Linked DNA regions of Homo sapiens: regions 1 and 3 are each linked to region 2. Evidence: fine-mapped expression QTL. A gene starts in region 2. Each other region holds a variant in brackets. All regions are shown on one strand. Distances are between the middles of the regions. Region 1 overlaps SLC4A5 (solute carrier family 4 member 5). Region 2 holds the start of DOK1 (docking protein 1). Region 3 overlaps M1AP (meiosis 1 associated protein).

What was found. PIP is the estimated chance that this variant, and not a neighbour inherited with it, causes the effect.
Region 1: its variant is fine-mapped to the expression of DOK1 in whole blood (INTERVAL, PIP 0.94).
Region 3: its variant is fine-mapped to the expression of DOK1 in whole blood (TOPMed, PIP 0.92).

The regions. Positions count from the first base shown.
Region 1 is chr2:74,330,492-74,340,251 of GRCh38, reverse strand. SLC4A5 (solute carrier family 4 member 5) reads left to right here. Exons shown (of 31, transcript NM_133478.3): 3 at 1,349-1,397; 4 at 6,075-6,225. Among named protein-coding and RNA genes, the nearest start is that of SLC4A5, 8.0 kb to the left of the region's middle. RefSeq lists an enhancer at 5,116-5,305 and a silencer at 6,808-6,897. The variant T/G (reference allele first, on the strand shown) is at 4,999.
Region 2 is chr2:74,548,860-74,558,619 of GRCh38, reverse strand. DOK1 (docking protein 1) reads right to left here and starts at 3,900. Exons shown (of 5, transcript NM_001381.5): 1 at 3,806-3,900; 2 at 3,167-3,466; 3 at 2,952-3,045; 4 at 2,542-2,726; 5 at 1,069-2,312. The coding sequence starts at 3,865. The coding sequence ends at 1,506. LOXL3 (lysyl oxidase like 3) reads left to right here and starts at 4,678. Exons shown (of 14, transcript NM_032603.5): 1 at 4,678-4,744; 2 at 5,974-6,298; 3 at 8,272-8,435; 4 at 9,037-9,251. The coding sequence starts at 5,986. It overlaps M1AP (meiosis 1 associated protein), which reads left to right. Exons shown (of 11, transcript NM_001321739.2): 11 at 1-737. RefSeq lists enhancers at 3,599-3,658, 3,283-3,800, 5,284-5,578 and silencers at 3,809-4,558, 5,284-5,578, 5,564-5,858, 9,524-9,760.
Region 3 is chr2:74,616,024-74,625,783 of GRCh38, reverse strand. All of the region lies in intron 2 of M1AP (meiosis 1 associated protein), which reads left to right. It also overlaps the pseudogene TOR1BP1. Among named protein-coding and RNA genes, the nearest start is that of M1AP, 27 kb to the left of the region's middle. The variant T/C (reference allele first, on the strand shown) is at 5,456.

The DNA of each region.
Region 1 (9,760 bases), 220 kb after region 2:
TGATAAAGAAATATTTTTATTAAAATGATTTCCTTTTATGGCAAAATAAGCATAAGATTGACCATTTTAACTATTTTTGAATGTACAATTCAGTGGCATTAATTATATTCACATTGTTCTGTAATACAACCATCACCACCATCCATTTCCAGAACTTTTTCATCATTCCCAACTGAAACTTTATACCCATTAAACACTAACTCCCCATTTCTCACTGCCCCAGGCCCTGGTAGCCATTAATCTACTCTCTGTATCTATAAATCTGACAATTCTAGGTACCTCTATAAGTGGACTCATACAGTATTTGTCGTTTTGTGTCTGGCTTATTTCACTTAGCGTGATGTCCTTAAGTTCATTCATGTTGTAGCATGTGTCTGAATTTTATTCCTTTTTAAGGCTGAATCACGATTGTATGTATGTACCACATTTTATTTATCCATCTGTTGATGAATATTTAGGTTGTTTCTACCTTTTAGCTATTGTGAAGAATGCTGATATGCACATTGGGATATAACTATCTGTTTGAATCCTGGTTTTCAGTTTTCTTGGGTGTATACCCAGAAGTGGAATTTACTTAATTGTTCTTGAATAGGGAATACCTCTGTATGGTGGACAATATAAAAGGTACAAGAAGTCATAGAGTTCCCTGAGCCCCGACCTCCAAGTTCCCCTCCCAGGAAGCATCACTGTAACCAGTTTCTGTGACCTCTTCCCTGGAGAGACCATACTGTACCCATAGGCACCCTCTACACAGGCATGATGACAGCCATAAGCACTCTTCTACACTTTCCCTTTTTCCTACTTAACAATATTTCTTTTTTAAAAATTTAAAAATCTATTTATTTTTTTCTTCAACTTTTATTTTAAGTTCAGGGGTACATATGCCAGATGTGCAGGTTTGTTACATAGGTAAATGTATGCCATGGTGGTTTGCTGCACAGATCATCCCATTACCTAGATATTAAGCCCAGCAAATATTAGCTGTTCTTCCTGATGCTCTCCCTCCCCTAACAATATTTCTAAAAAAATCATTCCATAGCACCATTTAAAGAATATCCTCATTCTATTTAAAAGGTTCATCGTTTTCCAAAGTAGAGACAAAACTTGTTTTTCTTTCTTTCTTTTTTAAAATCAGTCCTTTATTCATGGACATTCAGGTTGTTTCCAATGTTTTGCCACTGTGAACAATGCTCGGATGATAACAGCCAGCATTTCCTGAATGCTTACCATGTGCCAGGCCCTTGTTAAAATCCTTCCCATGTATCATATTTAATTCTCACTACAACTGTGACATAAGCACAGGGAGGTGAGTAACTGTCCCAAACCACATCTCTGTTTTTGTCCACAGGTGGGAGTGTAAGATAACCTTCCAGATAAAGAGTTGCTGCTACCAAAAGGTATGTCCATTTTATTTATTTATTTTTATTTTTATTTTTTTGAGATGGAGTCTTGCTCTGTCACCTAGGCTGGAGTGCAGTGGCACGATCTGGGCTCACCACAACCTCTGCCTACTGGGTTCGAGCAGTTCTCATGGCTTAGCTTCCCAAGTAGCTGGGACTACAGCCACTACACCTGGCTGACTTTTGTATTTTTTTAGTAGACATGGGGTTTCACCATGTTGGCCAGACTGGTCTTGAACTCCTGGCCTCAAGTGATCCACCCACCTCAGCCTCCCAAAGTGCTGGGATTACAGGCGTGAGCCACTGTACCTGGCCAGGTATGTCCATTTTAAAGTTATATAAATACAGCCAAACTGGCTGCATCGAGGCTGTGCTTATCTGCATCTCACTGGCAAGTAGATGTATGAGGGCCCATTGCCCTCCTCTCTCACTGTTGAAAAATTTCTTGATATCTGCCGATCTGAAAGGTAAAAAATGGTATTTCATTGTGGTGCTGATTTGCATTTTAATTTTACTTGTAGATTTTTAAAATAACACAGTTACAAGATTCAAAATTTGAAGAGTACAAGAGTAGAGACAAACCCCCATCCATGTGTCTCCCCAGTGCCCAGTTCCTGTCCCCAAACAAAATCAGGCCTCCATTTGCCTCCATTTCTCCCTCCTATGCCTATGGTCAAAACCTGGGCCACACCATTATCCTTAGCTGCTCCATCTCTGAAATATTAAATTCAAACATTCTACTCTGATCTCGCCACTGTCCTATTAACTACCAAGCACCTGACCCTCTCTTGATGCCCCACCTGCCCTTTACCTTACCTTCCTTTCCCATCCAGCTGAGGTTCTCTGCCCTCCAGAGGCTCCATGTCAGGCGCCACTGGGCTCCAGCCACACCTGCCTGGAAAGCCTTACTTTCTGTTTCACGATACCTAGTTCAGAGTCAGCCCACCCATGGGATCACTCTCATTTAAAGATCTTAGGCAGAATAACCACATAATTTACTGCTCAAAATGGGACCCTTTTGAGAATGAAAGGAGCACAACTAATTATGAAGCCAAGACAACAGGGGCAGATAGTTACTGTCCAAGGCAGATCGGGATGCAAATTCAAGCTCAATCTTAAGGAACAATTACATTTAATTTCGGAGCAGAGATCAATAATATGTGCTGAGCCCTGCGAATGATTTAAGTTGCTGCCTTTGTCCGCTGCCCAAGCTTCTCTTCTAAATGGATTTTTTAAACAGTGCATTTCCCTAACACTATTTTCTTAAAACTTTATCCTTTAGAATACCAGTTTCGGCCCATAAACTCAAGTGTGTAAAAAAATTAGTTTGTTTATAAAATTCTCCTTCATCTGTACTTGAGCCCCGCTCTTTAAAAAGGTGCTGACCCTTAATCCCAGTCAGTTCTGAGTTTCCTTTGCAGTTTCCATTTTGGGTTTGGGGTGGGGTGGAGTGCAGGGTTCTAGACTCTCAGTGACCTACAAAGGGTCCTGCCCTTCATGTCATCTATCCTTGTCCCATCTGGTCCTGGGTCGTTGGTGCCTGCAGGTTATTGTGGAGGTCAAAGTCTCTCTCCACCTCTTCAAGCAGCCTCACTCAGGGAGCTTGCCTGGGGTCCTCTTGGCCTAGATACACCCAGCAGCTGTTCTGTTCCCTGCTCTCAGATCCACAGATTGTGAGGGATGCTGCTTTCTCTGTGGGGCTCAGTCCAGGGAGCGGGGATTGGGACCTCAGCCTCCAGGACCTAGCAAAGTCAATGTTTCTCAACTTCCCTCCAGCCTTTGTCCTTGCCCTGGGGAATTATTCTTGGATATGAGTGAGGGGCAGGGAATGCCTTGATCTTTCTCATGACCATTTTCTCCCACACTTTGGTCTAGGTCTAGGCCAGAAGTCTCTTCTATTCCCCTAAGGAAAGAGGCTCCTTACCTCTTCTTTCTGTTTTCACACACCTTCCCTGCAGCAATGAGCATAGAATGGCCTGGCTATTTGAGGCAGGGAAGGGAGAGAGGTAAGGGGAGTATCAGGCTGGAGAAGGCATTGGCTAATATTTCAGAACATAATCTTGCAAGGCATATAAAAATATCTTATACAAGATGTGCTTCCTGTTTTAACTATTATGATTTTATAATTTTTCAGATCTTGTAGGCAAGACTCCCTATTCCCATCCCCCAGGCCAGGGCAGCCAGTTATCAGCTGTGTGAACTTGGGCAAATTATGTTATCCTCTCTAAGCTTTAGTTTTTTCGTCTGTAAATGAGGATAATAGTAGTTCATATCAGTGCTTCTACTTGCCAAGCACTGCTCTCAATGTTTCATGTATGTTACCTCATTTAATACTCATCATAAACCTATGGGATAGCTGCTATCATTCCCATTTTACAGATGAGGAAACCACTTCTCACAGTTGTAACTTGCCCAAAGTCATGTGATCTCCTGCTCTTAATCACTTCCCCAACCTGTCTTTCATAAATATTAATAATGACCTCAGCCAGGCGTGGTGGCTTACTCCTGTAATCCCAGCACTTTGGGAGGCTGAGGTGGGAGGATTGCTTGAGCCCAGGAGTTCAAGACCAGCCTGGGCAACATATTGAGACCTCATCTCTACAAAAAATTAAAAAGTAGCCTGGTATGGTGTGGCACCTGCCTATAGTCCCAGATATTTGGGAGGCTGAGGCAGGAGAATCGCTTGAGCCTGGGAGGTCAAGGCTGTAGTGAGCTGTGATAGTGCCACTGCACTCTAGCCTAGGTGACAGAGTGAGAATGCTGTCTCCACAATAAATAAATAAATAAATGAAATGACCTCTTGAGGTTGCTGTGAGGATTAATTGAGGTAAGGTATGTAAAGCTGTCAGCCCTGAGCCTAGCACATAGTAAAAACTCAGTACATTCTAAGCTCATACTTTAGCCATGATTTTTTGGTCATTTTCATTCAAAATGCCCTTGGAATTGTATTTAAAATATATATAAATGTCTGAACTTAAGCATATTTGCCCTATTCAGTTTTCCCATCCAGAAATATGATGTCTTATTATGTGTTTCTTAGCAAAGTTTTGCCACGTGTCCTCATATAAAACATGCATTTCTAGGCGAGTTTATTTCTAGATGTTTTAGGGTTTTTGTTTTTATTGAAAATGAAATCTTTTCCTCCATTGTATCTTTTGATCAGACAGTGCTGGTGTCTCCAGGTTCTTATTAGTTAATCAGCTCCCAGATGTCTCTAGAGGCTATGTCTTTCCATAGCCCTCTTATTTTAGGTTGACATGAAGATCATTTGGCCCAGCCAGTGACATACGCTCTGAGAGAGAGGCACAGGGGCACAGGGTGAGAAGTAGCTTTCCAGGGTAGCTCAGGTTGGCTGAGGTGATCAGAGAACTGTCCTTTGGCTAAGGAAGTACAGCCTGGGGAGAGGGGAAGGAAGGGGCCAGCCCTTGCTTGGCTGCATGCTGTTTCTGGGTCCATTTGGGGATCTGTCTGAAGAACGAGTTCCTAGGTACCCACATTTCCTCTGTGGCCTCAATGATTCCCAATAGTGTGTGCCAAATGATGGCTCCAGTGGCAGCTCTGCCAAGGCCCAAGATGCCTCCGTGGGCTCTAGCTTGCT[T/G]AAGTAGAGAGACTGTCATCCAGCAATGTCTCATTCTTCATCATGTGATTAAGAGCAGGAGATCACATGACTTTGGGCAAGTTACTTACAACTGTGAGAAGTGGTTTCCTCATCTGTAAAATGGGAATGATAGCAGCTATCCCATAGGAAGTGGAGGATACATAATCTGTGGCGTCCCTGAATCAGCTCCCTGCCTGACTCCACTGCAGACCTCCAGAGGGCAGCAGAGAGCAGGCAAGACGGGAGAACAGGACTTGGTTCCTGGAGAAGCAAAAAAGACTCTCTGCTCCTGCAAGCTGCTAGGAATACTGCTCATCCCCCTCCCCGCCTCCTCAGGATACACATGTGAGCTTCTTCCTGAGGGTGTAATAATTATAATAATATTATTAGTTAATACTAACTATTCCCTGTGGGCCAGACATTGACCTAAGGTTTCACATTGATTCAGATAACCATTGAGGTAGATATAATTATTATTCGCATTTTTTTTCAGTTGAGGAAATTGCAGTGAAAAAAAAAAGAAGTTGTCCAAGATGCCACAGTTAGTTGAGTCAGGATTTGGACCCAATCATTTATGAGCCAGGCTCTATTCTAGGTATCAGAGATACATCAGTGAATAAGACAAACTTTCTGCCATATTGGAGGAACAGACAAAAAGTGAACAAATGAATAAACACATACTGTGGTTTTGGATAGAAATGCCATTTAGACAAATAAAGCAGAGTTAATGACCAGAGAGGGGCATTTTAGATGGGCTGGTCAGGGAAGGTTTTCTTGGGTAGATGGCATTTGACCAAATAGTTGAATACACGAGGTAGCAAGTCAGGCTGAAGATTAGGGAAACAGTAAGTGCAAAGGTCCTGAGGTGGGAATGAGCCTGGGGTGTTAGAGGAACAGCAAGACTTGCGTCGTGGCTGCTGTAGAGTGAGCCGAGTCCATAGGCCACAGCAGCGATTGGGAAGTAGATAGGGGTGGTGAAGAAAGAGAACTCCTCCACAGCATCACCTGGGCTTGGCCTCTTACAATGTCTCAGCTTCTCTTTAACATATCTCTCACCTTTTTTCACCTTCCTGCAGAGTGCTGACACCATCACAGTATGTTCCCTTCTCAACCCTGGACATGGTTCAGAAACAGCTAAAGCAGACAAGAATCTGGGGCAGCCAATATTGTACCACCTGCCAAAGCTTGGCACAAACAATCTGGAAGCCAAAAATTGCACATACTGTGGTGAGTACTGCCCAGCCTGTGGGGAACTTCTTGTGGGTAAAGGTTCTAGATAAGCCTGCCAGGGCCCCCAAATGAATCCTTAGTCCCATTAACAAGGGCCTAAGTCCCGCAGGCCTTTCCAGGGTAGGAAGCTGCTATTTTCTTCAAAGAATTTTGCCCCCATGCCATGGTCCTAGGTCAGACCTACCTAAATCCTTTCAGATGTCAAACCCAGGTAGGGTTCAGATGGCATTTAGCCAGGAGATGGAAGGGAATCCGTCCCAGTGAGCAGCCATCACTGTCCACCAGGTATCTGAAGAAAATGGAGGCACAGAGGTCAAACAGTCATCCCTCAGCATCTGCAAGGGATTGGTGCCAGGACCACCCGTAGATATCATAATCTGAAGATGCTCAAGTCCTTCACATAAAATGTGACCTATGCAATCCTCTGTTTATCTTAAATCATCTCTAGATTACTTCGAATACCTAATACAATGTAAATGCTATGTAAATAGTTTTTTATACTGTATTTTGGGAGTATTATTTTTTATTGTTGTATTGTTATTTATTTTTATTTTTTCAAATATTTTTGATCTGCTGTTTGTTGACTCCTTGGGTTAGGAACCTGTGGATATAGAGGGCCAACTGTACTAAGAATCTTTAGCTCCCTCTCCTGGCAGATCCCTGGCGAGTGAGGTGGGCCTATGTTGAGTGCTCCTTTTGCCTGAGTGAGAGCCTAGAACCAGAGACTGAATGCCCTAATCCAGGATTTCTTGATCATGGCACCATTGATAGTTGGGGTCAGATAATTTTTTTGTTGTGGGGGCCATCCTTGTAGGACGTTAGCAGCATTTCTGACCACTACCCACTAGAGGCCAGAAGTACTCTCCCTCCAGTAGTGACCTTCCCTCCAGTATAACCAAAATAGATCCAGACATTGCCAGATGTGCCCAGGGGAAGACACCTGTGGCTGAGGAACACTGGGGCCAGTTCTTTCCCTTTCCCCAAGACCAGTGCATGAGCCTCAGCTGTTACCACTCTGGTGGTGAGGAAGAGTTGACAGTATCCCCCAAGCATTTACTTCAGTGCCACAGCTGAGTGGCTGGCTTGGCATGTCCTTGGCTGTAACATGGAAGGAGGCCAGAGGACAGGGAGCAGAGAGAAAAGGGGTAGCCATATCTTCTCTCAACATTTTTTGGCTTACAAAACTAAACCACAGGGAAGGGCAGGGATGAGGTTGGCCATACACATCACAGGACTAGGTCTTTCTCTCCCTCCTCATCTCTCTCTCTCTTTCATGCACATACATGCGCACACACACGCACACACACACACACACACACAAATGGACACCCCTCTGCCATTCTGTGTATTGGCTTTTCTCTCTCCCACTGAAGACAGGCTTTTTCCAGAGACAAAAGAGTACTTTGTGCAGGAGGAAAAAGTTAACGAATGGACTGATTTTGCCCAAGAGATTGGCAGGGCAGGAATAAGAGGTTATGAGTATCAATGAGAGAAGAGAGGAAAGGATTCATTATGATGTCCAGACCAGAAGGGGAAGTAAATGAAGCCATGAGGAGCTGGTATATGGGGAGAAGAGGAAGATGCCTGAAGATCAAAGGTCTTCATGCAGTTGAAAAGCAGGAAAGAAGGGAGTCAGAGCTTGGGAAGTTATCCATTAAGAGTCCCAACATCTGACCAGAACTGTCAATGTATGTTTATTTTGCTTCAGCGATAATTTCACTTAGACACATAGAATCGTAGGGCAGTAGAGTTTCAAAGAAACTTAAGAGATCCTTGAGTCCAACCCAGTCTATGTGGACTCTTTTACTAATTCTTCAGTGCTGGACTTTGAGAATGAGACTTGTTCACAACCCCTCTGTGCTTAGAATCAAATGAGAAATAAGATATAGAAGTCCAGCAGCTGGAACTAAAATAAATTTATGACAGCTAAAGCTGATTGGAGAATGTGGTTTTGAATGTACAGTTGGGCTTCCTAATTCTTTCCCTCAGAATGAAACTTATCTACCCAGAACTGGAAGACTCCCCTATCCCACAACGCAAGAACCTGCCCTTCCTAGGGCAGGTTGAAAAGAAGAGGAGAGGAGGGAAGCACAGGCCTTCTCTGAGGAGGCTGTTCCCAGAAGGAGGAAATCCAGAAGAACCTGAGTCATGACATATGCCCATTTTATGTGCTCCAATTCTCCAAGCACACGAACCACTCATCCTCTGCTAGATAGCATGAGTTTAGAGGTAGAGCAGTAAGTGGAGAGTACTTTTCTCAAGGCTGCAGCAAGGACAGAAGTTCCCACTTTATAAGGTGAGGCAAAAGTGCTTGGAGGGAGAGAGGTAGATTTCCCCCTGACAAATGCCATTTAATAGAGCAAACTCTGCTCCAAGAACACTGAGGCCCAGAGAGGTGATTTCCCAAAGGTACCATGGCTCTGAAAGAATAAGGGTCTCCAGACTCCTAATGGTGAAATTTCACCATTTCACATGTGTAATCAAAGGAGGACAGGTTCTTCCACATTTATCAGCATAATAGCAACAACAATCTTCTATTTCTTCATGCACAAGGCCTTCTAACTCCTTCCTTCATCACTATCACTGCCTCCACATCCTCCATCTACACCTTGCCACCTCTATCTACACATCACACCCTCATCCACACCTCACCACTACCATCTACACCTCACTACCCTCACCTATACCTCACCACCTACACCTAAACCACACACCTCCATCTAGACGTCACCACCTCCATCTAGACATTACCACCTCCATCTAGACCTCACCACCACCATCTAGACCTCACCACCCTCACCTATACCTCACCACCCACACCTAAACCACACACCTCCATCTAGACCTCACTACCTCCATTTAGACCTCACCACGTCCATCTAGACCTCACCTCCTCCATCTACACCTCACCACCACCATCTATACGTCACTATCACCATCTACACCTCACCACCCTCACCTATACCTCACCACCTACACCTAAACCACACACCTCCATCTAGACCTCACCACCTCCTTCTAGACATCACCACCTCCATCTAGACCTCACCACCACCATCTACACCTCACCACCCTCACCTATAACTCACCACCTACACCTAAACCACACACCTCCATCTAGACCTCACCACCCACATCTAGACCTCACCACCTCCTATACCTCACCACCTACACCTACACCATACACCTCCATCTAGACCTCACCGCCTCCATCTAGACCTCACTGCCTCCATCTAGACCTCACCACCTCCATGTAGACATCAGCACCTCCATATAGACCTCACTGCCACCACCATCTAGACCTCACCACCCTCACCTATACCTCACCACCTACACCTAAACCACACACCTCCATCTAGACCTCACCACCCCCATCTAGACCTCACCACCTCCATCTGACATCACCACCTCCATCTAGACCTCACCACCACCATCTATACCTCACCAACCTCACCTATACCTCACCACCTACACTTACACCATACACCTCCATCTAGACCTCACCACCTCCATCTAGACCTCACCACCACCA
Region 2 (9,760 bases):
GAGCCTCTGTGAGTGAGGGCTGACTGGGAAACAACAGCCTTCCTGTCCTGTTTCAGTGCTGTCCCACTCCTCAAGTCTGGAAGCGACACACCCGAGCCTGTCCTTTCTCCAGCAAGGACTTTCATTTTCTTTAGAATCATTTGCTACTGTTTACACAGGTGAAGATTAAACACCCAGTAAGCTTCTACCATTGTTAGGAGCATTCATAACTCAGAATTTCTTCTTGTAGCTCTGTGTAAGCAGGTGGATGAGGTCAGATCACCTTTGGTAAACTGGACCTCAGGAACAAGGATGAGGTTTTGAAAGCTCATAAAAGACAAGTAAGATTGAAATCCAAGCCTCATTTCAGAGCCTGTGCCCTTCCCACTACACCACCAGGCTTCAGCCTCCAAAGAGACAAGTGCTTGGTACCTACATGCAAAGTGTGTGTGCTGGGGGGTGGGAGGGCTGCCCAGAACAGGGGAGAGGATGGTGTAAAAAAAGACCTACTCCTTTCCTGTTACCCTCTCCCCACATGTACCAACCTTCCTGTTGCTCCCTCCATCCACAGAATAATAGCTACCATTTATAAAATGTTTACTCTGGGCTGGGAGCAGTGGCTCACACCTGTAATCCCAACACTTTGAGAGGCTGAGGTGGGATGATCACTTGAGGCCAGGAGTTCGAGACCAGCCTGAGCAACACTGTGAGACCCCCCCGCCATCTCTACATAAATAATAAAAACTTTTAAAAAAACACCCTGTGCTTCAGATTACACTAAATACTTATAATGTATCTAATTTCATACAAAAAGCCCTGTGAGGTAGAGCCCATTATAGCTTTTCCATTTTACAGAGGGGCACAGGGGAAACTGAGGGTTGCAGATGTTATCACCCAGGGCCACAGAGCTCACATCTAGCCCAGGGCAGCTTGACTTGACTCCCCAGGCACTGAACCGCCACACTTCTGTTCCCTTCCTGGGCCCCTTGCCTCTCCGTGACTCTCAACACATTCCTGGTTCTCCTCTTGATCCCCACCACACCCAACCCAACCACTGTGTCCCCTCTTTTTCTCTTCACACACATAAACTTCTTAAACCCAAGCTGACTTTAATGAGAATTTTAAAATTTTTAAATAGGTCTCTGGCAAAGAACAATGCAGGAGTAAGGATCCAGGCACAGTCCAACATCTCCCTGAGGCCTCCACACAGGCCCCTCAAACTGCACCCATTCTGACCATGCACCACTTTCCACAGACCTGGTCCCACAGCCGTCCCTTCATTTGGGGAAGTAGGGAAGGGATGGCTTTGGGGGATGCAGAGCCCATCCTCAGCCCTGCCATCTGCCCCACTTCTTAGGACTTCCTGGGATTGTCCTTCCCTTGACTCTCCCATCCCTCTGGTCCCCTGGTCTCACACAGCATGGCCCCTCCCACCCTCTGGCTTCTGCTGGTTCTAACCATCTTCTTTGATCCCTAGTGCCACCTCCCCATGGTCCCCCTTAGCCACCTCAGCCTTGCCGTCCTTCTCAGGTAGAGCCCTCTGACTTGACCCCAGTCTTGTCAGTCCCTACTCTAGAGAGCCCACAGTCCCAGCTCCCTGAGGCCCCGCTCTTCTGGACCTGGCTGTACAGGGCTGAGTTGTGGCTTTTGATGCCACTGCCAGTTGCAGTACCAGGTTCAGGGAAGGCTGGGCCCTGGGGCTTGGGAGCAAGGAGGGGCTTTGTGCTCCGAGGGGGTGGCACAGCGTAGTCATCAGTGGCAGGGTTGTAGGGGAGCTCATAGCCCTCCTCCTTCACCCGAGCTTGGCACCACCATGCATCCTTGGGCTCCCGAGGCAGATCATAAAGGCCCTGGGGAGGGACTGGGGCCAGGCCCTCAGGTTCATCATAGATGGGATCCTCTTTGGGGTCTGTCAGCTTGGCCTTCAGCAACTGCTGCTGCGCATGCTCATACAAGTCCCAATAGAGAGGTTTCTTCCGTTGTACTCCCTCTCCTGCCTGAGCAGACGTGCTGTCCAAGGGGTCTGAGTATAGGGAGTCCTGGGAAGGGCATGGAGCAATGCGCAGGGAGTCTAAGGGCTCAGCATACAGGGCTGGGGGACTGTCGAGGAGCTCTTGGGGGCCAGGTGGGGAAGGCAACTTCCCCTCTGCCACCTCCCCTTCATGGGAGTCAGCTCTGAGAACATCGTGCCCCTGTCCGGCCTTTCCCTGGGCCTTCTGCCGGTGGATGGCAGTCTCAACTGCCTGGAAGATGTCATTTCCCTGTGCCGTCTGGAAGGTGAAGGTTCCAGGGCCTGAGGGGCAGCGGCGGCCGGCCTCGAAAGAGAACATGACCTAAGGAGGGTAGAGGGGGAAACACATTACCAGGAGCCATCAGAGGAAGTGAGTCACACGCCTGCACTAGTTAGGGTATCTACAAAGAAGAGACCACCTGCGAACAGACGCGGGGTCACCGGGTAGGCAAGAAAGGGGGATCCAAAGGTCAGAGCTTCCCACTTTCTGTCCTGCCCCACCCCTCCCACAGCTGCCCAACCCAGGAAGCCCTCCCGGACAGCCCCTGCACCTTGTCCCGGCCATAGCGACGCAACAGAGTGTAGGGCCAGGACAGGAGTGGCTCCAGTATCTGACTCTGGGCCCCCACGGTCAGGAGAGTCAGCCTTTCAGCCTCCACCCTCAGCACGTAGGAGCCATGCAGGCCACAGCGCTCGGCGGCCTCAGTCCTCTGCACCGTTACCCAGAATTGGGATCCTGGAAGGCATACACGATTAGACAGCTGCGGGGGAGGGACGGGGGCAGCAGTGGGGACCCAGAGGACTCATGAGCATAGTGTCCAAGCACTCACTCGGAAGCCAGATCTCAGGGCCTTCCTACTTCTTACTTCCCCATGGGCCCCTGGGTATCCACCCACTTCCCAAAGGCCCTCGGCCCTCCTCCTCTTCACTCCATCCCTGCCCGGGCTTCTGAGGCGTCTACCTTCCCAGGTAGGGCTGTACAAGGAGTTCTCCAGCATCTCCAGGGCAGAAAGCTTAGGTGGGTTATCGGTAGGCGCCAGAGTCCAGCTGCCTTTCTGTAGTAGAGAGCATCGAGAAACCCGTAATTTCCTCAGCGGGGAGCGGGGGTCGGTCTGAGGCAGCCCCATTTCTCTGCCTCTGTAACTGCCCCCACCCCGCATCGCCGCAGCTCCTCACCGGAAAGGCGTTTCGGCACAGCGTCTGCACCCAGGCTGCACTGGACGGCGCGTCGGCCGCCAGCAGGTGCGAGCGCTGAGCAGTGTCCAGGCGGAAGGCAGTGGCGCCGGGCTCAGGGGGGGTCTCCACGGTGACGGGGGCCACACTCACACACTCAGCCAGACGGATCACTTTGCAGTCCAGGCGGCGCGAGCTCCCTCGGCCACCCCCAGAGCTCGACCCCTTATGGTCAAAGAACTCGAGCCGCGCTACGCCGTGGGGACTGGCCGGGTAGAGCACGGCCCAGGTCTTCCTCCACCTCTAGGGAGAGAGAGAGAGTGCTCGAGAGGGAGTGGCGTGCGCAGGCGGCCCGGGTCCCGACGGGGAAGGAGGTTGCGGCGCAAGTCGATTTGGGATCTGGGGCTTCCAAACGGGGTTGGGGGCGAAGTTTCCCAAGGACGATGCCACTCCGTCTCCCCAGGACCAGAACCCCTAGACTACAGACGCTTCCCGGGAGTGTGCAAAGCAACTTCACGGGAAAGTCACAGGCTCTCCAACTCCCGGCGCCGCTCTCCAGCCCGCTGCCCACCTCTCCCTGTTTCTGGGCTCTCTCACCCACTACTAGCCCGGATAAGGTTCGGCATCCATGCGCCAGACTACCTTGGTCCCAAAGCGCTGACTCTGCAAAAAAAGCGGCCCTTCCATCACTGCTCCGTCCATGGCCCCCGGCGGTTCCTTCCGCGCTTCCTGGCCCTGCGGCGGGAGGCGGGGCGGGAGGCGGGGCCGGGTTCCCTGGAGGAGTTTCCGCCCCTCCCCGGCCCCCGCCGGCAGCCGCTGGGGGGGTCGCGGTGGGGTGAGGGAGAGGAGCGAGAAGGAATGGTGGAGACCCCCGGATTAGCCGGGAGCTGCAGCACCCCAGGCCCCTACCCGCCGTCGTGGGGGCGCGCCAGTGGCTCCACCGAAAGTCCTCGGTTTTGGCGCGAGGGCCCTGGCCTCTGGGCGTGGTGGCTGCGCGTGACGTCATATGCCCAAGGTGACGTCAGAGTGAAAGCCATGACATCACCCCGAAAGCGCCCCGGGCACCGGAGAGACCCACACGGGCCTCCGGGGCTTTATTTACCCTGGCCGGGCCCGCCCCCAGCCCCGCCCGAGCCGGGCTGTTTAGACTCCGCTGGCCCGGGACTCGGAGGGAGGGCTGGGGTTGAACCGCTTCCCGCCACCACCGGGGCCGCCCCGCCGCCCGGCCGCCGCTTGCATGTCAGCTCCCTGACCGCAGAGGCCTGGCCTCCATGCCGCGGGAAGAGAAAGCTTCATTGAACGAGCCGGGAGGGCCAGGGAGGGGGAGGGGGCGCGGCAGTGGCCAGCTCCACGGGGAGGGAGGACCCAGAGGAGGAGAGGAGGGAACTGGCCGGGAGGAATGGAAGGAGAAGGCGGAATGTGGGAGGGCTCAGGGGGATGTGGGAGGGACGAACGGAGAAGGGGGAGAGAGGGGGGTCCAGTCTCCCCTGGCCGAGCATTTTTTTTTTTTTTTGGAAGTCCTAGGACTGATCTCCAGGACCAGCACTCTTCTCCCAGCCCTTAGGGTCCTGCTCGGCCAAGGTAGGGGGAGTCACGCTAACCGCAGAGGGAATGAGTAGGGGATGGAGAGGATGTGGAGGGACCAGGGAAAACGGGTGGTGTGGGATGGAGTCGAGGGGAAGCCACCCAACTGAGAGTTTGATTCTTGTCAAAGGGCAAGTGAGACAGAGTACACGGAGGAGGCACATACCGGAGGCGGGGGCTACGGGTGTTCGAACAGGGCCGCCAGGAGCGCCCTAAGGGAGGGGGCTCCTCCGGGAGGCGCTGCCCCTGGGTCCCCAACCCAGAACAAAGCTGCCTTGTTGGATTGATTGTTTGGGTTGGGGGAAGCATGTTGACGGGGGCTTGCTGTAGAGGGGCTGTTCTCAGCCCTAGGCAGAGAAGGCCTTGGCTGAGGAGCCATAGCGCCTGGCCTCCCGTTGCCCGGTGACAGGGATGGTGGTGTTGGCAGGAGGCTGGGACAACCCTACCCCATCCCCCGCCCAGCCTTGAGGCCTGGCCCTCCTGGGCCTCTTGACCCTGCAGGGCATCTGAGAGCCTGCGTGTTGGGGAGGGCGTGCAGCAGGTTCTCCAGGCGAGCTTTGGTGCCAGCCTTCCCTGCCTGGGAATCTGCTGGGTTAGGACTCTGGGCTCCCATTCAGGGGATCTGTGATCCCAGGGCCGCCTAGGGCCCCTTACGTGCCTCTCTGCACAATCAGTACAGCTGTCTGTCCTCCCTCTGAGTAAATGGGGTCATCTGGATCCCTCCCACGTCCGCCCCTTGGCTCTTGTCAATCCCTCTCCTTCTCACCCGCGGTGTGCTTGGTTCCCCTATACTGAGTGCTTAGTTCTTTGCCTATCACTTTCTATCCGTTGTCTCTCTCCTCTGTGTCTTTCTGGTTTTCTCTCTCTCATTCCCACAGTCTCCCTTCCTCTCACATCCTGTCTGTCTGGGTCTTCCTCTCTCTCTACGTGTCTCTTGCTCAGTCTCTATCTCTTTTTATTGACCCTTCTCTGACTCTCGATCTCTCATAGTTGTCTCTTATCTCTGGGTCTCTCAGGCTGTGCCTCTATGACCTGTGCCTCAGCCCTTATTTAATGTGTTTCTCTCCCTGTCTCTTGGTCCCTGGGGCTCTTTCTCTCCTGTTGTCTCTCGCTGTCTCTGTCTTACTCAGTGTCTGTTTTTCTTTCGTGACTTCTCCCTCTCTTTCTGACTCTGGGCCCCACTCAATCTGTTTCTCTCACGCACACTTTGTCTCTGGGGCACCCAGGCCTTCCCTGCCATGCGACCTGTCAGTGTCTGGCAGTGGAGCCCCTGGGGGCTGCTGCTGTGCCTGCTGTGCAGTTCGTGCTTGGGGTCTCCGTCCCCTTCCACGGGCCCTGAGAAGAAGGCCGGGAGCCAGGGGCTTCGGTTCCGGCTGGCTGGCTTCCCCAGGAAGCCCTACGAGGGCCGCGTGGAGATACAGCGAGCTGGTGAATGGGGCACCATCTGCGATGATGACTTCACGCTGCAGGCTGCCCACATCCTCTGCCGGGAGCTGGGCTTCACAGAGGCCACAGGCTGGACCCACAGTGCCAAATATGGCCCTGGAACAGGTGAGCAATGATCCAGGCATATCCTAGATATTTCCTATGTGTGGCCAAAGTGCAGGGAAAGGGAACACGAGGATGGCACAGCCATAGGGACACACGACACCAAGAACAGCCAGCATTGAGTAAATCCATGGATGACAAACCAAGCAACATAGTTACTTCCCAGAGCTGTGTGACCTTAGGCTAGTCAGTGCTTTCTCTGAGCCTCAGATGCCCTGTATGCAAAATGACTAGATGATGTCTAAGTTCTTTTCTGCTGCAAAAGTATGATCCTACAAAGCCATCCACAAAACAGCCCAGATACAGGTGAGCCCTGTACAAATAAAGTACAGTTAGTCTCATGGGACGCTAAGAGCAGGTAAATGATATCTGGATGTCCCAAAGTCACAAGGGGTCACAGACACTGCAGCTAACAAAATCAGGTTATGGGCCAGAGCTAAAACTAACAAGGTGGTACTGTCTAAGGACAAGTATAAAATCTAGGACAAGTATGAGTGTGGGTGGTGGAGGCTTAAGAGCAGTTCCCTAGGTGAGGCCTAGGACTGTGCCCATGGTATGAACCCACAGTGGGAATGATGGACAGAAGCAGGTGCAACCTGCAGCTGATTCCCCAGTTCCCACTGGCTAGACCACCTGTGGAATTAAGTGTCATTTGTAGATGCTGTGTTTTAAGAGGGACAGTAGAAAATGGAAATACTTTCAGAGGAGAGCTGCCTAGATGTGAAAGATTCAGAAGCCAAGTTTCAAGGAGGAATTGCTGAAGAATCAGGGGATTGATATGGAAAGTAAAAACCTTGCATAGCAATGGCGTAATGGTTGTTTTTAAATATGGGAAGGACAGTCGTGTGGCTGAAGGATTTTTCTGGTTGGCACCAAAGGAATGAATCAGATGTGGTAGGGGAAAGTCATGAAGAGTCACAAGGACTTTGATGGTTACACAGTCTGGTGGGGCAGGAGCTAGGTGTCTCCGCAACAACTGGGTAAGTCCTGTTGGGATGTGAATGAGATGTCCTTGAACATTGGCTAGGACAGATGACCTTTGAGGCTGCGCCCAATTCTGAGAGGAAGCCAGTGATACTCCACAGGGTTCAGGCCGGGCTCAGTGGCTCACGCCTATAATCCCAGCACTTTGGGAGGCTGAGGTGGGTGGATCACCTGAGGTCAGGAGTTCGAGACCAGCCTGGCCAACATGGTTGAAACCCTGTCTCTACTACAAATACAAAAATTAGCCAGGTATGGTGGCACATGCTTGTAGCCCCAGCTACTTGGGAGGCTAAGGCAGGAGAATTGCTTGAACCTGGGAGACAGAGGTTGCAGTGAGCTGAGATCATGCCACTGCATTTCAGCCTAGGCAACAGGGCAAGACTTCGTTTCAAAAAAAAAAAAAAAACAGGTTTCAGACAGAGAGAAGAACAAGGGGCTATATGGCAGCACAGACAGGGCGGGCACAAGAGAGAATGCAAGGATGTGAAGAAAGGATCTTAGACATCCAAGCCTCACAGATAGATCAAACTCCTAAGCCCCCACGTATTGGCTTTATGGTCTTAAGCAAGTTGCTCAGCTTCTCTAAACCCCAGTTTCTTTATATAAAACAGTGTTCTGGCAGCTCTGTTCTAAGAATGATCACATATGTGCACACCATGGCAGAGCACCTGGCACACAGTAGGTACCTGATTAATTGTAGCTATCAATGAATGGGTAGAGACTGATCAGAACTTCAGGGTTGATTCTTGGTTTTTTATTCACCGTATCAGGTTCTTGAGTATCCCCAGATCACACCAATTTTCCCTCAATCTTATGCCCCCTTCCTATTCCCTGCCAGGGTCCCCTGTCCCGTCTCCACCCCTTATCATACCAGAAAGATGGGATCATCATGGCCAAGTGGGAGGCCTCAGCACTCACTCTTCCCTACATCCCCATTACTCCCCCATCCTCCCTCCCCAAGCTTCTCTGTCCCTTCATCTCCCCTTCCACAGGCCGCATCTGGCTGGACAACTTGAGCTGCAGTGGGACCGAGCAGAGTGTGACTGAATGTGCCTCCCGGGGCTGGGGGAACAGTGACTGTACGCACGATGAGGATGCTGGGGTCATCTGCAAAGACCAGCGCCTCCCTGGCTTCTCGGACTCCAATGTCATTGAGGTCTGCATTTCCTAGACATACACACACACACTACCCAGGATAGCCGAGAGTACTGTGGGGTGGTTAGCGGAGACATTAGAAGGTAGTTACCCCTGGGGGATCATTTGGATTGGTGGGAGACTTGGAAAAGCAAATGATAGAGCTCCCAGATGCTGTAAAATCCAACAGGTTTTTAGCATTCACATTCAAGGGGCTAAACCTGGCATGAGCCTCTCCAGCTTCATCCCTAGTCACCCCTGGGGCACCTGGTGCTCTCCTTCTCCTCAAATGTTCCTGCTTTCCTGAGACATCTTCCTTCTGACTTTCTCCTCCTTCAAAGCCATTTCCTTTTTGAAGTGCTCCCTCCTGCTCCAGGCACAGGGAGGGCCTCCTTCCTAGTGCCCTGAATCCTCTCTGGGAGCACAGCACATCCCACGCGCTGCTGGCTGCAAGAGAGTCCACACCGCGGACTGCGGCCATCGTGGCCGCTCTCTCAGCGCCGCCTCGGGCCCATCCCGCCACTGGGTTTACAGCAGGCACACCAAGCAGGGTTCCTTAAGGGCGGCGGGACACATGAAAGGTGCCACTGGGATTCTTTCCCTGCTTGTGGCCCCGCCCCCAGGTAGAGCATCACCTGCAAGTGGAGGAGGTGCGAATTCGACCCGCCGTTGGGTGGGGCAGACGACCCCTGCCCGTGACGGAGGGGCTGGTGGAAGTCAGGCTTCCTGACGGCTGGTCGCAAGTGTGCGACAAAGGCTGGAGCGCCCACAACAGCCACGTGGTCTGCGGGATGCTGGGCTTCCCCAGCGAAAAGAGGGTCAACGCGGCCTTCTACAGGTGAGGGGCCGCGGGCGCCGGGCGGAGCAGGCCGGGATTGGGGTGCTCCCTGATGAATAGCCTTGGGAGACATCTGAGCAGGTCCGGGGCACGGGAGGACCCGGGGGTCGGGACGCGCGGGAAAATATGGAGGCCGTTGCAAAGCTGGAGAGTTGGGAAATCTTGTGGGACCACGAAAGGTGCCCCAAGGGAGTACCTGAAATGGGGACCAGCGAGGCTCCCGCTCTCTCGTGGCCGACGCCTGGGCGGGCAGGCGGATTCCTCGGCCCCGGGGCGCGCGCCGGCCTCGCGAGGCCACTCCCAGGCGCGGGGGCGATTCCAGCGCTGGCGCTGCCGGCCAGCGATTTCCGAGTTCAGTAAGGACGCGGCCGCCCCTGGGAGGCGGCGCCTGGGTGTGTCCCGCGCAGGCTGGGCGCCCAGGGTCCGGGGGCCCGGGGACGGCGGCGCGCGATGGCCGAAGGGCGCCAGGAGAGACCGCGCCAGTCTCTCTGCCCGGGCCGCCCCGGGGC
Region 3 (9,760 bases), 67 kb before region 2:
AAAGGCGATTACTAGGCCAGGCAGGGCTATGAAGTCACTGAAAGACTATGAATTCTGAATGCATGGATGGGTCACCATTAGGTGTCCCTATACCCCACAGCTGACCCACAGTATGCTGCATGTAACAATAGGAGAGCCTCTTTATGTCCCTCCAGTGCCCTTTACTAAGAAAACTTAACATTGTGCTCACTGTAAAAGAGAAATGCTTAAAGGAATTTATCACAGAGCATGTACTGAAGGATGAATTTGGAGTTGAGAGGCAATAAATTAATAATTAATACACAGACCATGGGGAGAAAATAATAGGAATGGCTTTTCTAAGCATAATATAAAACCAAAAAATCTAAAAATAAAAGATTAATAATATATAAAAACAGAAAATGTATGCTTGGAAAAGAACACACATGCAAATTCTAAAGATAAATAGCTATGAGGAAAAATATTTGCTTCTCATATCATGTAGAGTTAATTTTCTACATACATAGAAAACTCCTACAACTCAGTAAGAAAAAAACATTCAATAACTCAGTAGAAAATGAGGATGGATATACACAGTCAGTTTTCAGAAAAGAAAATATAAATGACATTGAGACATGAAAATACATCAACCTCATTCATAGTAAGAGAAACCCAAATATGCAGAGATGTCACTTTCCACCTATATGATTGGCAAAAATTTTCTGTGACACATTTTCATGAGAATTTGAAGAAATAAGCATGCTTATATGCCATTTGTCAGTGTATAAATCGACATTATAGAGGGCAATTTGGTGACAGTATCACAATTTACATATCTTTTAAAGTAGCAAATTCACTTCTAGGACCTTATCCTACATATATATTTACACATGTACAAAAATAACTTAAGTACAAGATTATTCATTTTAGCACTGTTTGCAGTAACAAAAGATTGGAAACAAACTGAATGTCTGTAAATAGGGGATTGGTTACATAAAATCACGGTTCATCCATTAATGGAATACTCTATAATGATGTGAAATGATTGCTCAAATACAATAATCAACAAAAGCAAGATACAGAAAAGTATTGCCATCACTTCTATTTAGGGAAGAAAAATGATAGAATTACATATCCTTTTGAATTTCAAACCCTATGAATGTATGTATTCAAAACACATAAATATTAAAAATACATTTATGCTGATAAAATACCAATTTATATATAGGGAGTCTTTGTAAGATTTGATTTTTTATAAAGGGAATTCTGATTTTCTTTTTAAATATTTTTAATCCCCTCCCTAAACTGCATTCTGGTTTCTTGACCTGACCTCCAATGAAACATCAATCTAAGTTATCCTAACTGCCTAGGGCCATATTATCTATCTATAAGATAACCCAAAAAAGTTCATGTATGAAAGCCCAGAAATAGAATTCTTGAAGATTTTGTCAAGCCAAGGCATTTACATGATGTCCAACAAATATTAGCCATACTCAAGTGTTCTAGGTCAATAATATATGTCTACTGATTCCTGGAGTTTACCCAATTATTACCAATTTTTTATCCCTTATTTCTCTAACTTGACTTTCTGATAACCAACTAGAATGTGCCACAGCTTTACAGCCTCTGAAATCCTCTTCACCTTTACTTTAATGCTGGCTTATGCTGATCTAGCACTAGCCTGCTTATGCCTTTGTGACCAATCCCTCCAACAATGATATGAGTGTCAGCCTATTTCAAGACAACTCTATAGATAGATGATACACAGAGAAAAGACTTAAATTTTACATAAATGAGATAATACTATGCCTGCTGATTCCATTATCTAATTTTTTTTAATTAACAGTATATTGTAGGCCAGGTGTGGTGGCTCACGCCTATAATCCCAACACTTCGGGAGGCAAGTTGGGAGGATCGCTTGAGCGCATGAGTTCGAGACCAGCCTGGGCAACATAGCAAGACCTTGTCTCTACTAAAATTTTAAAAATTAGCCAGGTGTGGTGGTTCATGCCTGTAGTCCCAGCTACTCCAGAGGCTAAGGAGAGAGAATCGCTTGAGCCTGGGAGTTTGAGGCTGCAGTGAATCATGATCACGCCACTGTACTCCAGCCTGGGTGACAGAGCGAGACCCTGTCTCAAAAAAAATTAATTAGTTTAATTAAATAAAACATAAGTTAAACCAGTTTCAACCTTAGCTGCACATTAGATTTGCCTGAGGAAGTTTTAAAATATATCAGTGCGTGGAGCCCACCTGATAAAATTTAAATGTCTGAGGGTATGTCTCAATGCCTCAAACTCTCTCTCTCTCTTTTTTTTTTTTTTTATAGACAGAGTCTGGCTCTGTTACTCAGTCTAGAGTACAGTGGCACAATCTCAGCTTACTGTAACCTCCACCTCCTGGGCTCAAGCCATTCTCCCACCTCAAGTCCCAAGTAGCTGGAACTACAGGCACGGGTCACCATGCCTGGCTAATTTTTATATTTTTTTTAGAGACGGGGTTTCACTATGTTGCACAGGCTGGTCTTGAACTCTTGAGCTCAAGCAGTCTGTCCACCTCGGCCTCCCATAGTGCTGGGATTACAGGCGTGAGCCACTGCACCCAGCCCTTAAACATTATTTTACTCTCAATTATTACTGTTTTTAGGTATGCATATTAGAGATGACATACAGTGGAATTTTTCAATCTAGTCCAATAATTTGTTTTTTAGCTGGTATATTTTAGGAAGTAAGTTTGTATTTATTGTAATTACTGACCTTATTATTATTAAGATTATTCTGATTATCTTACTTGGTGTTTACTATTTGTCCTGCCTTTTCTTTGCTTGCTTCTCCCATTTACTATCTGATTTTGGGTTTGTTTTTTTTTTTTCCACTCTATTTTTTTTTAAAGTGTATAATCTATTTATTTTCTTTTAGGGGTTGCCCTAAATTAATTGGTATCTCTACCCTTCACTAAACAATACCTTAGAATGCTTTAACTCCGATCATCTCCCTCTCATCGTGCATATTTTTGCCCCTGTATTTTACCCCCAAATTAGACATTACTGCTATTGTTTTATACAGCTAATATTTATTTCATTTTACTCATATATTTACCAATTTATTTGCTTACCCTTCCTTCTTGCATATCAGACCATTTCTCTGTGATCAGTTACCCTCTCTCTTCCTTGAATTATATCCTTTAAATCAGCACCATTTACTAGATATGTAATGTGAGCCACACATATAATACAAATTTTTCTATTAGCCACCTTTAAAAATAGAAAAAAAAAAAAAAAAAAAAGCAGGCAATGGCCGGGCGCGGTGGCTCACGCCTGTAATCCCAACACTTTGGGAGGCCAAGGCGGGCAGATCACCTGTCAGGAATTTGAGACCAGCCTGCCCAACATGGCGAAACCCCGTCTCTACTAAAAATACAAAAAAAGCCAGGCATGGTGGCAGCCACCTATAATCCCAGCTACTCAGGAGGCTGAGGCAGGATAATCGCTTGAACTCGGGAGGCGGGGTTGCAGTGAGCCAAGATCGTGCCACTGCACTCCAGCCTGGGCAACAAGAGCAAAACTCTGTCTCAAAAAATAAAATAAAAAATAAACAGGCAAAACAAATTTTAATATTTTATTTGTCCTGACATATCCAAAATATCATTTCAGTATGTAATCAATATAAAAATTTATTGAATTTTTTATATTGTCTTTTTTTTTAATTTTGAGATGGAGTCCCACTGTGTGGCCCAGGCTGGAGTGCAGTGGCATGATCTCAGCTCACTGCATCCTCTGCCTCCCAGGTCTAAGTGATTCTTATGCCTCAGTCTCCCGAGTAGCTGGGATTACAGGTGTGCACCACCACACCCGGCTCATTTTTGTATTTTTTTTTTTTTTTTTAGTAGATGTGGGGTTTCACCATGTTGGCCAGGCTGGTCTCGAACTCCTGACCTCAAGTGATCCACCCACCTCAGCCTCCCAAAGTGCCAGGATTACAGGCTTGAGCCACCGCCCCCAACCAATATTAAACTTTTTTATGTTTGTTTGTTTTTTGAGACGGAGTCTCGCTCTGTTTCCCAGGCTGGAGTGCAGTAGCGCGATCTCGGCTCACTGCAAGCTCTGCCTCCCGGGTTTACGCCATTCTCCTGCCTCAGCCTCCCGAGTAGCTGGGACTACAGGCACCCGCCACCATGCCCGGCTAATTTTTTTATTATTATTATTTTTTGTAGAGACGGGGTTTCACCTTGTTAGCCAGGATGGTCTCGATCTCCTGACCTCATGATCCGCCCACCTCGGCCTCCCAAAGTGCTAGGATTACAGGCGTGAGCCACCGCGCCCGGCCAATATTATCTTTTTTACTACTCTTCAAAGTCTTATGTGTATTTTACATGGACAACAAACCTTCAGTTAGAGTAGCCACGTCTCAGATAATAACCACAGGCGGCCAGTGGCTGCCATATTTGACAGAGGCCCGGCTGGATCAGTTGTTAATCTGTGCCTCTCATTTTGCCAGCTGGGAAAGTGCTGCTTTTCTGGTGCTTTTTTGTTTTTTGGGGTTTTTTTTGAGACGGAGCCTCGCTCTGTCGCCCAGGCTGGAGTGCAGTGGCGCGATCTCTGCTCACTGCAACCTCCACCTCCCGGGTTCATGCCATTCTCCTGCCTCAGCCTCCCGAGTAGGTGGGACTACAGGCGCCCGCCACTACGCCTGGCTAATTTTTTTTTTTTTTATTTTTAGTAGAGACGGGGTTTCACCATGTTAGCCAGGATGGTCTCTATCTCCTGACCTCGTGATCCGCCTGCCTCGGCCTCCCAAAGTGATTGCAGGCGTGAGCCACCGCGCCCGGCCTTTCTGGCGCATTTTTAAGGTGTGTTTCTCTATTCTGGAGCTGACTCCTAGAGCCCTCAAGCTGGATTTGAAGGAGAAGCTGTTTGGACAGCATGTTGCCGCGGAAGTGATTCTCAAGGCACTGACTGGCTTCAGAAGCAACAGAAATTCCTAGAAACAACTAATTCTTTCCTTACGTGGCTGAGCTGGCATAGGCAAGAATTTTGTCAGCCAAATTGTGGCTGAACGTCTTCACTCAAAAGGCCTGAAGAGTAACTCTCCACCTATTTGTACTAACTCTGTACTTCCCTCATGAGCAAAAGATAAAAAACTGTACCAGGCAGGAGAACCCAGCATTATCTTGTTCACAGGCCATTTGGACTGGTCTGGGCAAACTGCACTAACTCTGGCCTCTGCTTCTCTTTTCTTTGCATTGCAGTAGCCCCAGGCTCCACTGAGTTAAGACACACTTGAACCCAAATTTCCCAACTCCCAGTTTACATGGTAGTCACATTCTCCAATGAATGAATGCACTCAACATTCCCACAGAGCATTTGGTGTTAGGTGGGGGTTGTTCAGCAGGTTGTTTGGGCATGGGGTCATTTAATGCTCTCCACCTATGATGCAGCCTCAGCCTTGCCTCTGCATGTTGCAATGTAGATTAGAGGATTTCTTTTCTTCTAAACACCTTT[T/C]ATTCCCTTTGTTCCTCTCATCTTTCGAGTCCTTGGCATTGCTTTCTTCAAAGAAAGCCTCAAATAACTGAACATTGACACTGTTTCTCCTTTTCAGATATTCCTTCCACATTTAATTTGTATTACATTATCTAGGAGGGTTCATTCTCATTTAAATGAATGTCGTCCTTGTCAAGGTTAATATTCCCACTATTAGGTGGGGACTGAAATAAGAAACAGAAACTTAACTGAACAAGGAAGTGAAAGTGAGTGTTTGCCACACAAACTGTAAGATAGAGAAGACTGCCAAAATCAGGAATAATTTTCTTATTTTTCACATTTTTTCGTAAATCTCTAGAAATATAGTAAAATAAATAAGGATGTATCTGGGGGAGTTTCCTGGTCACAACCTTTTTACATTGTGAGGTTGAGAGCTTGTTGCCTGGGTGTCTTTTTGTTCCAAGAATGTATCAGAATAAATGCTTTTCATGAGATGTCACCTAGGTCAACTCCTTCATTCATTCCGTCAGTACAAGGCATTGGTCTCGGGCACTGTGCAAGTCTTAATCTAGTTCCTTATTCTTCAATATGTCTGGTAATATTAAGTTGAGATTTTGCTTCACAGTGAGATGAACACTATGGATTAGTTAACGGTGAATGATAAATATTTATGTATCTTGTGTCTCTTATACCTTTAAAAAAGTCACATTTAACATGTCATTTGAGTTAGGAAAAAACTTCCTTGCATTTTAGCACCTATCTCTCTGCCAATTTCAACTTTGTATAGATAAAGTTTTGGAAAAACTTACCCACTGAATGGAGGTGAGAGTGCAGTTTCCTAGAGTTCTTCCCCAGGGAGCTCTGATCTTAAGTCTTTTAGAGCATGAAGAGCAGCATAGTGCTTCTGCTCCCTCAGAGCATCCTTTGAGCCTCCCCATCCCATTTCATCTTTTATGGTTGGTCTAGGACCAGTTACAGAAGTGGATTCATGGTAATGTGAGTGCATATTCCAGCTATTTTCATATTTGACAAGATGCATAAATTCCACCCCCAGGGTTGTCAACACAATCAGTCTGTTTCTAGACCACTACAAAAAGGTTTTTACCAAAAAGCCATCTTCATCTTTCCCAGAAACATAGACAGGGACCTCATAACTGAGATAGCTCTTGACTTTTGGTGGGTAGGAGGAAGGAGGGAAGACATTTAGCTGAAGGACCTGGAACCTGTGCCGTCTGATAGTCTTCAATAATAAGCACAGTGGTCTGTGGTGCAATGGACTGATCAACAAAACCTTAATCAATTACTTTACCTTTTTCCTGCCGATGAAGTACAGACGTGAAAATATGCATGAAGGCAGAGATGAGGGCCCATGGTTCTGCTATAGATGAAGACATTGTCACAAGAGTGGCAGAGGAAATGACGCTTTTCCCCAAAGACAAGAAAATCTACTCAGTCAAGAGCTGTAAGACTGAACAATGACAGCTAGATTTCCACTGAGCTCTTAACCAGATGGGATAAGAGGGATTTGGGAGGCTCAGCACACGAGGGACCTTGCCTTTCAGAGGCATTTTGAAGACTTCTTTGGGGTTTGGCACATTTGCACCTGTGAACTTTCGGGATATAGAAGTTTCTAAGAATTGGTTTTTGAAAAGACACTAATCTGTCAAGTGCACTTGTCATTTTGCAACATGACATCAATCCAGCTGTTAATTGCAGTTAAAGATAAACTATAAAATCCCCTTCACACTTATTGTTGCTGACTTTGACAGAAGTGCCTGGAAACAGCTGTGCAAGGGAGGCCTGAGGATCGAGGATTGTTTCTGACCCACAACACCCACACCTCAGAAGCTACTGTTGTGACTGAAGGGGTTCAAGGGCCCTGCTACAGTCTGAAGAGCATTAGGTTTTCACCTGCTAAAAACATTCTTCTGCTGTTTCTTTTTCTTCACACAGAGAGGGTTCACTGACTTGTATTTTCAGTTTAAATTGGTGGCACTTGACAGGTACAGGTGGTGTCTGGTGGGAGGACATGGCCCTGCACGCTGAGCACTCTTGGCCTGGGGTGAACTGTCTGCATGTGGGGTGGGAGCTCCATCTGAGGTCTCTGCAGAGCAGGGCAGACAGGTCCATTGCTGTGGCTGCTGATTACATCTGTGATCATGGAATTCCTTCACCCATCTCTCACTTGATATCACTTACCCACTTGCCTTCCTTGTACCACATCTTCTCCTGACCTTCACTTGCTACTAAATTCCCCCCAACCATATCATCATAGAAGCTAATCAGAATAAGACTGTAGCTTCAAATTTGAGTCCTTGGTTCCTAAGGTTAAACGTTTGCTGTTACCTTTAAAATATGGGTCAATCTCTTGCTTTACTCCAGAGAACCATTTGAAATTCACAGGACATGCACATTCTCCATAGTTGACATGTGCACAGACTAAGCAGTCAGTTTGCAGATTCGGCATTGCCAAAGAAGTGGGAGTATTAAACACTAGAAATGCTAAGAGTTTTCAAGGATTTGTATATTTATTATAATGTTTTTACTTCTGAACCTTCGATAATAGAAATATAGAACATTGCTTATTTTAAAACATGAGAAGGGCACAAAATGGAATAATTGCTTATTTTTTCCCAGACACTCTTAAAACAAATGGTATGAATTTTTTTAACTTTTATTTTAAGTTCAAGGGTGCATGTGCAGGTACATAAGTAAACTTGTGTCATGGGGGTTTGTTGTACAGATTATTTCATCATCCAGGTATTAAGCCTACTACCCATTAGTTATTTTTTCTGATCCTCTCCCTCCTCCCACACTCCACCCTCTGACAGGCCCCAGTGTGTGTTGTCCCTTTTTATGTGTCCATGTGTTCTCATCATTTAGCTCGCACTTATAAGTCAGAACATGCAGTATTTGGTTTTCTGTTCCTGCGTTAGCTTGGAATTTTTATTGTTAAATCCATAGTAATATGTCATCACAATTGTAGACACAAACAAGCTTAGTCCGAAGTTGTGGCTGGTTCTGGGTGTCATCTAATGACACCCTATATGACATCACCAGGCTGGACTGCCCTGATCACTGAGAAGTAAGGCTTAGATTCCAGCTATTTTGAATCATTCTGTGTCTGTCCTATAGTTGTAGTACAACTGCAGACACATAATTAGAACAATGGTGTAGCATTTTTGTATATAAAATGTAATAGAATGAATTTGTGACATCAAAATGCCTTGTAGGGTATCACATTTAGTCTTTTAAAATACCAAGGTGAGGCTTAAAATTTTTAGTACATATTCTCAAATTGGAGTTAAGTTACATTTCTTTTATAGCCTTTTGGGTATCTGGTCAAGAGAAAACAAGATTTTTCTCTGTTTATAATGATGCAATAAACTCAACCCATGTTGGCCACCAAATAAATAAAATAGGAATAAAAATTGATACTGAATGTTGTGTCATTCGATCAGTAATTATTTTATTTATTCACACAAACCTGAGCTAATTGAAAGAAGAGCCCAGCTTGTCCATGCCATTAAGAGGAATATTTCCAATTATTAAGAGAAACATTTCCAATTAAAGCTATGCTTAATGCCAATAATTATTTCTCAAAATTTGTATATACATGTTGTTTTAATAAATTGTATATGAATGATAATTCTAATAATAACTCAATCTAGAGTGCCCCTTAGAGCCTATGCTCATAGGAAACTTAGAACTCTTGCAAAATATAGCTGTTTTAGATGCAGAGAAGTATGATGGGATGATCAATAAAAGGTTGCCAAGCATAAAAATTCTTTTACATTATGATAAAACTCTCAGGGAAAGTGAAATGGAAATATGAGTTCAAGGAGAAAAAGGAACAATCTAAATTTCTATCTCTTGGGAAAAAAAGAGCTTGTTCATGTACTTTTAACACTGAATAATGGTGAGTATCAAATCACCATGGCATTTAGATTCAATTGGACTGTTTTGAAGAGTTATATTATAGTTTTATTTTTAAATGTTGATATTTAAAATATGCAGGAAGTTACATCGTTAGCAACCACTTATAAAGTTGGAATTTTAAAATATAGATGTTCACTTAAAAATGCATAAGGGGGTACATTGTTTCTCAGATTCTTTTAGTGGGTACATGAGAAGAAATGCTTAAAGCCTACTAGGCTACACCTGTGGTGTGATTTCTTCTAATTTCTTTCTCGGATAGTTTTCTTATTTTCCTTTCTAGATTACAAGTTTTCTTTGTGTAAGAATTATATGCAATTCCTTGTGTTTTCACCCCAAAGACTTGGGGAGAGAAGAATATATCAACTGTGGAGCTAAGCCCAGGAAGGT